Linked DNA regions of Homo sapiens. The protein of the gene in region 3 interacts with the protein of the main gene of each other region in a biochemical or structural test. Each region holds a gene or a part of one and is shown on either strand. Other genes may lie near its edges.

What was found.
Region 1: the proteins of MAPK8 (region 3) and DUSP10 form a complex in vitro, tested with the Homo sapiens proteins (2 studies listed by BioGRID, with this or other methods).
Region 2: the proteins of MAPK8 (region 3) and MAPK8IP3 form a complex in vitro, tested with the Homo sapiens proteins (3 studies listed by BioGRID, with this or other methods).

What each region holds. Positions count from the first base shown.
Region 1 is NC_000001.11:221,735,388-221,739,138, forward strand, and holds part of DUSP10 (dual specificity protein phosphatase 10), read right to left. Parts: coding exon 3,547-3,751; intron 1,880-3,546; coding exon of another isoform or gene 1,836-1,879; exon of another isoform or gene 1,744-1,835; coding exon of another isoform or gene 1,697-1,743; exon of another isoform or gene 48-1,696; intron 1-47. UniProt on the Homo sapiens protein: Protein phosphatase involved in the inactivation of MAP kinases. Has a specificity for the MAPK11/MAPK12/MAPK13/MAPK14 subfamily. It preferably dephosphorylates p38.
Region 2 is NC_000016.10:1,703,871-1,707,621, reverse strand, and holds the start of MAPK8IP3 (C-Jun-amino-terminal kinase-interacting protein 3), read right to left. Parts: upstream 1,428-3,751; 5' UTR 1,283-1,427; coding exon 965-1,282; intron 1-964.
Region 3 is NC_000010.11:48,400,558-48,404,308, forward strand, and holds part of MAPK8 (mitogen-activated protein kinase 8), read left to right. Parts: intron 1-1,054; 5' UTR 1,055-1,103; coding exon 1,104-1,225; intron 1,226-3,751. UniProt on the Homo sapiens protein: Serine/threonine-protein kinase involved in various processes such as cell proliferation, differentiation, migration, transformation and programmed cell death.

The DNA.
Region 1 (3,751 bases), on a different chromosome or scaffold from region 3:
GGATTCGAAGTTGAAAAGCACTTAAAAATGGGTACATGACACTCAAGTGTTTACGAGTGAAAATGTTCATAGTATACTATAAAATATTTCCAGCTTTATTGAATTTGAAACATTAATTTACACATTAAACATACTTAAATACATTAAAACATTATCTATATTTTTAAATATTTCAACAGAAAAGAGAAAGCAAATAGGAAAAATATAATTGTTTAATCTGGTTGATAGGTGTATGGATGTTCATTACACACTTTTCTGCTTTTCTATATGCTTGAAAATGTTTATAATAACATTTTTGAAGGCATATACTGTCTTTAAGAAAAAGGGGCAGTAGACTATTTCTTCCTACCTAAGTAAATGACAAATTATTTCCCTGGACCCAGCTTTACTGAAAAGAAAGGGAGCCTGAAAAACTTTATAGCAAAAACGGTAGCTCTCGTTATGGATGGTCTAGAATTGTTCAACTTTCTTACTCAGTTTGACTAGAAAGCAAGTTTTAGTTGATTAAAAATCAGCTTTGAGTAAAACAATATAATTCTTTCAAAGACCTCACAAATCCCTAAATATTTATTCATTTGGATCATTTTCACCAGGTTGAAGAGAAGCACAGGTCTGATGCCATTTATTCTTTAGAAGATGAGACTAAAACATAGATTCTAGCATAGGTCACAACAGGGAGGGCACTGTAAATTAGAACAGTAACTTAATCCCAGGGGCTGCCATGCCTCTGATCGGTTTCTTCCCAACCTGACACAGCATTACTAAAATGGCAAGTTAGCAGCCGCTCTACTTGACAGACAGCACCAAAAATGGAGAGTATGGCATGGAGACAGGGGGACAAGGATCTTGGACAGGGAGGGTAGCAACCAGTGTTTACAAACATAAACCAGAGCATCAGATGGGCCAGCCATAAATTACCCAAGATTGTACTGAAATCTCTGAAAATAAACTAACAAGCCTTTAGAAGTTTCCTCCTTATGTTCTAACTATGCCCCCCTCCCACCAACTTCCCTGCAAAAATTACTCCTTCCGAAATGGTACCACTACCACTCTTGCTGAAACACAATCTTATCACCAAGGGAGGGGATTACTCAAATAAATCTGAGAGGAGAAGCCAGACCAGAATGGTCTGCTTGACCCACTCAAGAATCTGAGAGAAGTCTGCTGGTCATGCCTTTGGGGAATGCCCACCCCGTCTTTCACCACAGTGGTGCTATGGTATTAATCTCTGGTTTACCAAGTTGAAAGGATAACGAAGGGCATTCTAATATTGACCCATTCCTTTCCCTTCTTTTCCATCTTGGTCCCAATTTTAGGCCATTCTCCCAAAAGATACCAAAATGATAATGATAATTATAAAGTAGAATATAGACCCCTTCACTCCTGAACTACATATTTTCAATGAAATTCCCAGATATTTGAAGAAAAGGCCCCCAAAACTACAAATAATCTAACCTCTACCACCAGAGCATCTTCCAAGTCGACTGCCGCGGTGTCTCACCAACTCGAAAATGACGAGGCCTCGCAGTGGCTGCCCAGGGCGCCCAGTGGTGAGGTCAGCAGTGTGTCCTGCCCCGCCCCATTGAGGCAATCTTACTCTGACACTGAGGAAGAAGTCTAGGCTGTCCAGAATCTCAGCTGCATCCACAGGAAAGGGAGAGAGGATCCTCACTTTCACAAGTAGCACCCAGGAGATTCATTTCTCAATGACTGATGGGTCACCCCTATCCACAACTCCACCCACTGCAAAATAGAGAGTAGGGTCTGCAACTCCTTGTAATCATCCCCATGATTAGGAGGTCTAGGATCATCTTGATCCGTGTTGTTTCCTCTCTTCAGATCATGAAGACACAAAAGACTTGCTTTTTATCATGAACACCTGCTCTGCGTGAGAAAAGAGGAGATCATCATGATCATTGGCTATCCTCCTCTTTGCTCCCCAAGACAAACTATTACAAATGGGAAATTCCTCGGTAGGATTTTCTCATTTGTAAGAGGCTAGACACATCAAGATTATGGTAAGACAATAGCAGGGTAAATATCCTGGGAATCACTCAAAGTCAACCATACAAGAATACAGAAACAATAAAATACAGAGCTATATGGAGGAAATCTGAACATATTTGTGACCTCAAGAAAACCCACCACAACCACCACGACCAGGAAATGTCTAGAAGCTTCTGGAACTCTCTACATACAATTCTTTCATGTTCTCCTTCCCAGCAAAGCCCACCAGCCCTAAGGAGAGATGTGCCTTTGTGGTAGTGTAGCCCCATGAGGGCAAGTTTGAGGAGAGCGGAGGGTGGGAAGAGGAGATTGTGTCAGTGGAATTCAGAACTATAATTCCCAGAACACTGCTTAACAAAAGGCAGAATGCCCCACTGGGAAGACAAGAAGGAGAATGGCAAAGCTGTCCCATAGAGACAAAATAACTAACTTGCTCACCCACATGTCCTATTGCAATTTAAATATGCAATGTGTTCAAACTCAGCAACACCTTTGGTCAACACACTTTAGGAGACTGGTTGGAGATGTGACCCAGAAACTGCGTACCTTGGCTCAGAACACAAGAGGAGAGAAGAGAGAAGACGACTATCTCTCACTACCACCACCAGGTAAAAGATGCCGAATGAGAGTGATGTACAGTGCCCCAAAAGTCAGTATCTGAGGGCAAAGAGGTGCAACTAGGCTGGGCACAGGATGCAGGCTACTTGGAAAGGTTAGGCAACACGGTATGGAAGGTGCTCCGAGAAGAGTGGTGAATAATTCCTTCTGCCAGAGCTCAGTTCTGCTAATCTCAGTTATTCTGCATTCAGTATACTGGGGCAAGTGACCCATTACTCCATCTTGGGAGGAGCCATGATGCCAACCGTTGTCAGGTGAGGCCAGAAAAAACAATGGGTTGGGGAGTGTTTCATAAAAACGTCTCTGTTCCCTTGGAGCCTTGGCAGAGGAATGGATGTAATTGGTGAACTTATACTTTATATGGGGCCTTAGAATAAGAAGCTCTGCCCTTCTTCAAGGTCACTTTATAAACCACATAAAAGTCAAGCTGGTCAGAAAGGTGAGAAAGAGAAAGAATTTCCCACAGTAAGAACTGGTACCTGTAGGTTTACTTGTAGTTCACCATAGTTGCTCCTTCCTCTGTTCCATCAACATTGGTTAAGTCTGAGAGACAATAACTTTCCAACTAGTGATTGATTGGAATAGAGCTAGCAGACCAGGCATGACTTGAGATACCATCTGGTGTGTATAAAGCCCCTTTTTAGAAAGATGAGAAAACAGTCCCAGAGAGGTGAAATGACTTGCACAATGCAAATTAGAACCCAAATGAAGGGTAGAACCCAGATCTTCTGGCTTCCAGTTCAGTGCTGCTGGGTTTTTCTTACTAAACCAAAACAATAAAGAGCATAGAAGGGAAGAGAAGAATAAAGTCTATTTTGGTCTTTGGTAGCCAGGGTAAGGAGAATGCTGTCACTCTACGAGAAAACCCAAAGTGAACCCGGCTAATCAGGACCGTGCTTGGGAAGGGAGCAGGGGCATTACCTTTCAACACCAGAGGTTCTTTGCCTTCTCTCTTCAGGGACTCGAGGACTATGTGAAGTGGCTGGGAGGGCATCACTCGGCTTGGTTCATTGGTATTCTCATCATAAACTATAATTTCTTTGGAAAAGATCCTCTTGAAAGAGTCCTTGCCTTCCCTACAGGAAATCAAGTCTAGGACAGTGATCTTGCCCTGCTGCAGTCTCCG
Region 2 (3,751 bases), on a different chromosome or scaffold from region 3:
GAGGTTCTGGGCCCACACACAGGCAGGCCGAGCTCAGTATCTGACGGTGAATGAATGAAGCTAAGTGGTGCTCCCCACAGGGCCCGGCTCTTGTAACTGCTTCACAGACAAGCGATTTCCAGGTTATGGAGACATCCTAGCACAGAATTAAACGCTTCAAACTCAGACTGTTAACTCCTCAGAAGCCAGAGTGGAGTTTCTCAGCCCTGGCTACATCAGCTAACAATCTCGCCAAGCAAGGAACCAAGGGGGCAAAGACATCACCTCCAGAAACTCGAGTGTTCCTTCTGCTGACAGAGGAGCAGCCCGCCTGCGGCCTTGTTCTGTGTTTACATCAACCACCCAATTCACCCGTGTCACAGACCTTCAAAATACGGGATTAGGGACAAGGGAAAGGTCTCCAACATCATCCACAGACGGCTGCAGCCCCCTAAGAACACCAAAAGATTCCTTTTCTAGATGGGTTTAGAATGGCAGCCAACAGAGGTAGCACTTGGGGTCGGGAAACGGTTTTGACTGAACACACGCACGAAAGCAAAGGCAATTGTCATGCAGAGGTGGGTGGGGAGGGGAGAGTGAGGCCTGGCTTTGAAGCTGAGCTCCCCGGGGATGACGCCAGGCACATCGGGTTTGGGGCTGAAGATTCAGGGCTGGGGGCACGGAGGAGGGGGCCAGGGCCCAGGCCTGGGCGGAAAAGGGGGTCCCCGGGAGTCGGGGTGGGGTCCCGGGGCAGGCGGGGGAGTGCTCTAGGGAGGTGTCTCACGGCGGGCAGAGGGGGTGGGGAAGTCCCGGGGCGGGGGATATGGGGTCCAGGCGGGTCTCGGGGCGGGGTCTGGGGGTCCAGGGGTCCCGCGGTCCGGGGTGCCGGAGCGGGGTCTGGGGTCGGGACGGGTGTTGGGTCCGGGGCCCGGGGCTGGCTGGGGGTCCGGGACGGGGATGCGGGCGGGTCCCGCGGCCCACGCACCTCCTCCGCCTGCCTGCGCAGCGCCTTCTCACGCTCGTACTGGGTGAGCAGCTGCTCGTTGTCCTCGCGCAGCAGCTCCAGCTCCACCTCGTGCTCCTGGTTCTCGCTGAGCACCGAGTCTAGGTTCTCCAGCACGTTCACCACCAGCGGCATGAGCTCCTTGACCACCTCCTCGTCGTAGCAGTGGATGAGGCGCTCGAACTCGCGGTAGATGGAGCCCGCCAGGCCCGACACCCGCTCCGACATCACCGAGCCGGAGCAGTAGTCGTCCTGGTACACCACCACGCCGCCGCCCTCGTCCATCTGGATCTCCATCATCGCGGCCACCGCCGCCGCCAGCGCGGCTCGCTATCCGGCCGGCGCGCCCGGCCCTCCCCAGCTGCCTCAGGTTCCGCAGGCCGCAGCCCGTCGCCTCCCGCAGCTGCTGTCGCCTCAGGGCTCCGCCGCCGCCGCTGCCGAGGCTGCGCCCGTCACTCACTCACCGGAAGTCCCGCCCTCCAGCCGGAGGGGGCGGTGCCCGCGCGTCCCGCCGCAGCCGCGCCGCCAGGGGGCGCAGGGGCCGTGACGTCAGAGGAAGCCGGGCTTCGGGCCGGAAGCGCGGGTGAGCCGGGCAGAGGGAGCTCCCGGCCAGGCCGGTGGGATCCGCGGGGCGGCAGTGGTCGCTTCCCCCAGCGCGCTGTAGCTTGATCATGTCCCCGCAACCGTGGGCTTCCGGTGACCTCGATCCCGTCTCCAGGCTCTGCACACTTCGGCGGACTTAGGTGAAGGCTCAGCGCCTGCGCCTCAATCCCGGCCGCCCTGATGAGCCTCCGTTCCCTACAGCACCGCGCCCCGCTCAGTGCCTCCCCTCTCCTGATGCCTTCCCCGCTCAGCTGGCTCCTCCCGGGATTCTGTGAATGCACCCTCAACGCCCATCTCATCCTGAAACCCAGCAGCGTGGCCTCCTTCCTTTCGCCCACTTCTCCCTACTGCACTGACTGCTTCAGATTTTCTTTTTTTTTTTTTTTTTTGAGATGGAGTCTTGCTCTGTCGCCCAGGCTGGAGTGCGGTGGCGCGATCCTGGCTCACTGCAAGCTCCGCCTTCTGGGTTCAAGTGATTCTTCTCCCTCAGCCTCCGGAGTAGCTGGGATTACAGACCAGCTAATTTTGTATTTTTAGTAGAGACGGGGTTTCGCCATGTTGGCCAGGCTGGTCTCAAATTTCTGATCTCAAGTGATCCGCCCGCCTCGACCTCCCAGAGTGCTGGGATGACAGGCGTGAGCCACCGCGCCAGTCCAGATTTTCGGTTACTTTTCAGCTACGTGCAATCTGTTTAACCCATCCACTGGGTTATTAATTGCACCGATTTTTTTTTTTTTGAGACGGTGTTTCGCTCTTGTCGCCCAGGCTGGAGTGTGATGGCGCGATCTCGGCTCACTGCAACCTTCGCCTCCTGGGTCCAAGCGATTCTCCTGCCTCAGCCTCCTGAGTAGCTGGGACTACAGACACGCGCTATTAACGCCCGGCTCATTTTTTTGTATTTTTAGTAGAGACGGGGTTTCACCATGTTGGCCAGGCTGGTCTTGAACTGCTGACCTCAAGTGATCCACCCGCCTCCCTCGGCGTCCCAAAGTGCTGGGATTACAGGCGTGAGCCACTGCACCCTGCCAATGATTCTGTTTTTGTCCTATTTGATTTCTTATATTCTAGCAGTTTTAATAGGCTCTTATACTTCCAACCACATATTTATCTTTAAGCGTTGGGTGTGCCTCATAACTACAGTATCTGCAGCCCTTGCAGGTCTGATTCTGCATGTCATCCTGGTTGACTCTTGGCCCAGGGTCCCCTTTCCCCCATTCTGAGCCAGTGTCCCCAGGACTTTTGTCTCTGGAAGTACTTGAGGCCTGAACTTAAAATGTGTTGCTCCGTAAGATTTGCACTTTATTTTGCTGGGCAGGGGACACCATGAACCCAAGACTTTGAAACTCAATTTGGGAGCCACACATGTATTGTGAATCCTGATGAAACCACATCAGTGACTATTTAATGCTAATAGAAATGGCCACTTACCGTCTTTCACCTACTGCAATGCTCATCAGTTCAGATCCTCTCATCCTAATCTGATTGCACCGAAACAGTAACTCCCGTAGCTGACACCCTACTGATTTTTTTTGTTGTTCAGTTTTTAGAGGCAGGGTCTCACCCTGTTGCTCAGGCTGGAGGCACTGGCATGATCAGGGCTCACTTGAACTCTTAGGCTCAAGTGATCCCACCTCAGCCTCCTAAGTAGTTGGGTCTACAGGTGTAAGCCACCACTGCTTGGCCAATTTTAAAAACATTTTTGTAGAGACAGAGGTCTCACTGTTACTCTGGCTGGTCTTGAACTCCTGGCCTCAAGCGATCCTCCCCCTTGGCCTCCCAAAGTGCTTAGATGACAGGTGTGAGCCACCATGCCAGGCTCTATTGTGTTTTTCACATTTTCCACTTGCAACATAATTTGCCGTATACATGTTCAACCATCCCACTAAGAGGTTTCATTCAGCCTCAGATTCCAATTTCCTGGGATCCCAAGTGACTTAATTTTGCCAAATCTCCATTTCTTTTCTTTTCTTTTTTTTTTTTTCCTGAGATGGAGTCTCAGTCTGTGGCCCAGGCTGGAGTGCAGTGGCACCATCTCAGCTCACTGTTACTTCCGCCCCCCGTGTTCAAGCCATTCTCCTGCCTCAGCCTCCCGAGTAGCTGGGACTACAGGCATGTGCTACCACGCCTGGCTAATTTTTGTAATTTTTAGTAGAGATGGGGGTTTCA
Region 3 (3,751 bases):
GGCTCACCTTCTTACCTAGTTTGTGATCTGGCCCCAGGACATGCAGACTGCCTAGTAGGCAATTAATATCTGCTGAATTAATTCTTTGTATTGTAAGTCATATCAGGATTTCTTGGGGGTTAGCATTATCTTAAAACCACAAAAAACAATAACTTTAGACCTAATTGGTTTCATGACTTATTGAGGAGGCGAGGAATAGGTTAAAGCTGCTTTGCATACATTTTGGAATAGTCTCTTTTGTCTAGTAAGGATGGATAAGTTTGTTAATAACCAGTATTCACATGGGTAGAAAAAAAGTGTCTTGATTTTTAATCCTACAAGTAGTAAAGGAATGGTAGTCAGAAGTTGAATCGTACTTTTAATGCCTCAGGCAGGATAGAATAGTATTGTTTTGTTTTGTATCCCAATATGCCTAACTACTTCTCTCTCTCTCCTTTCTGTTTTGCTTCTCATCCTTTCACCCATTACAGTCTCAGTATGTGTGTTACACCAGGAGGTTGCCTTGGCAGGTCAGAGGATCTGTCACAGTGAAGGCACTGTGGTACCCTTTGTTTTTTAGGCAAGGATGACACATGCTAGTCAACTTATTTCCATTTGTTGTTCCCTCCACTTGGCACTAAATGAGACTTAACCATTTTTGAATCAAAGTTTATAAATTTCTTACAAAAATTAAGGTTTTTATTCTCTATAATAAGCACATGAGAAAGACTGGTTTTAAATTTTAAACTGTGGAGTGACGTAAAAACATGTTTAATTTTAATTATTTGCTTTCTTTTGTTCGTCTTGTAAGTTATTAATGTATTAATACTGGTAACTTCTAGATTGGAGGAATGATTTATCCTAATGTTTCTTTTTTAAAAAAAACTATCAGTCATTCATATGGCATATGCTAATCAAGGCTCTGCGGTATTTTTTTTCTTATGTTTTTTAATGAAGCAGCTCTTTTCATGATCTAGCAGTCTGTGTTACTATCAGTACGTAAACAGTAAGGACTCAAATTTTAAGATTAAAACAAGTTCATTTTGTTAACATCATGTTTTGTTGCATCTTGCAGCTTCTTGGTGAATTTTTGGATGAAGCCATTAAATTAATTGCTTGCCATCATGAGCAGAAGCAAGCGTGACAACAATTTTTATAGTGTAGAGATTGGAGATTCTACATTCACAGTCCTGAAACGATATCAGAATTTAAAACCTATAGGCTCAGGAGCTCAAGGAATAGTATGGTAAGTGTTTACTTCCAAAAATTAGGCAAAGAATCATTAACTGCTACCTTTTCTCCTCTCGTAATTTAGATACCTTGGCAAATATTTAACTTGCTTTGAAAAATTAAATTAAAACTAAAAATTAAACGAAAACTATTCCACAGTAAATTGTTTGCTTCAGGATCAATGGTCTTTTCTTTATTATTATTATTAAAGGTTGAGTATCCCTTATCTGAAATGCTTAGGACCAGAAGTGTCAGATTTTGGAATATTTGCATTGGTTGAGCATTCCAAATTCAAATCAGAAATACTTCAGTGAACATTTCCTTTGAGCATCATGTCAGTGCCCCCAAAATTTAGATTCTCGAGCATTTTAGATTTCATATTTTCAGATTTGGGATAATAACCTGTATTATTCATAAGATACAACTCTATAAACTAGCACTGCCATCTTTAAGTATAAACTATGATTAAATACTTGGGCATAGCCATTGAAGACAAATATCTCTATCAGCAAAGAATAAGTGGCATGCTTGTTAATTTCATGTATACATGTATTCCCATAGATAATTGTTTAATAAGAAGCTTCACTTAGTCATCACTTTCACACTATAATGAAGCGTGGAATTTCAGAAATCTTATTCTATACTGGGGAATGAAGTCAGCTAATATCTCACTGTGTGTGTTTCAAAATTCATCCATATGTTTAAAATTGATTTATTAGCTAATTTCTACAAAAGCCTCAGGCTATATCAGCATAATTCTTTATAAACTGAAATGCAGATCACTCTTTGGGATAGTTCTGATACTGATTGCAGATCACTAAATTAGCATAATAATAAACTAGTGTTTTGGGGAATTATAAGCCTCACTCAAGAATAATTATATTTTTATTACCTCTTCTTGAAACAAATTTCAGAATCTATTCTAAACAAAATGTAAACTGTTAAGTATTTATAATCCAGTATTTCTCCTAGGTTCTAAAAAAACTGTTTTACATGTGCACAGGGAGTCATGCATAGGATTGGTGTTTGCAGCACCATTTATAACAGCAAAAATTGGAAATAGCATCAAATCTATCAACAGAAGAATAAAAAATTGTGATACAGTCATGCTGTGAAATACTATATAACATTTTAAACGAACTGGAGCCATATGTGTCAACAAGGATAACCTCAGAAATGTAGTGCTGGGCTTCAAAGCAAGATGTAGAATATATATATACATCATTATACCATTTACATGTAGCTTAAAATATGCAAAGCAGTACCATATATTTATGGATTATATATATGTACAAAAGATTAAAACATGCATAAATACCAAACTTAGGATGTTGTTTATCTCTGAGAAAATAGAGAAAAGAAAGGAGGTTTGACCTATAATATTATATTTCTTTCTAAAAAATTCAGAGCAAGCCGGGCGCGGTGGCTCACGCCTATAATCCCCGCACTTTGGGAGGCCGAGGTGGGTGGATCATGAGGTCAGGAGTTCAAGACCAGCCTGGCCAACATGGTGAAACCCTGTCTGTACTCAAAATACAAAAATTAGCTGGGCATGGTGGCACATGCCTGTAATCCCAGCTACTTGGGAGGCGGAGGCAGGAGAATAGCTTGAACCCGGGAGGTGGAGGTTGTGGTGAGCTGAGATGGTGTCACTGCACTCCAGCCTGGGTGATAGAGTGAGACTCCGTCTAAAAAAAAAAAAAAAATCAGAGCAATTATGGTAACGTATTAAGATTTAATAAATTTGCATAATAGAATGGCATTTATTATCTTTCCTGCATTCTTGAAGTAATTTACAATATCAAAAATTATAGAAGTTGGAGTCATTTTGTAAGCCGTTTTGACTGGCCTGTTCTCATTGTAACCAACCACATTTAACCAACCATAAATTAAATTTAAAGAAAATCATATTATATAGTCAGTATTAGGATTCTGAAAGCCAGCTCTCTGTTCAGATTTTGTTTTTTGTTTTTTGTTTTTTTGTTTTTTTGTTTTTTTTTGAGACAGAGTCTCACTCTGTCGCCCAGGCTAGAGTGCAGTGGCGTGATCTTGGCTCACTGCAAGCTCCGCCTCCCGGGTTCACGCCATTCTCCCGCCTCAGCCTCCGGAGTAGCTGGGGCTACAGGTGCCTGCCACCACGCCCGGCTAATTTGTGTGTGTGTGTGTGTGTGTGTGTGTGTGTGTGTGTGTGTATTTTTAGTAGAGACAGGGTTTCACCATGTTAGCCGGGATGGTCTCGATCTCCTGATCTCGTGATCTACCCGCCTCGGCCTCCCAAAGTGCTGGGATTACAGGCGTGAGCCACTGCGCCTGGCCCTTCTGTATTTATTTTATTGTGTCCAAAAGGATAGAAGTAATGTGTTTACATAGAATTATTCAGCAAATCTTTTGAGTAGAATTTATATGCTTTTTTTTTTTTTGAGGGAGTCTACCAGGCTGGAGTGCGGTGGTGCGATCTTGGCTCACTGCAACTTCCGCCTCCCAGGTTCAAGTGATTCCCTTGCCTTAGCCTCTCAAGTAGCTGGGACTACAGGTGTGCACC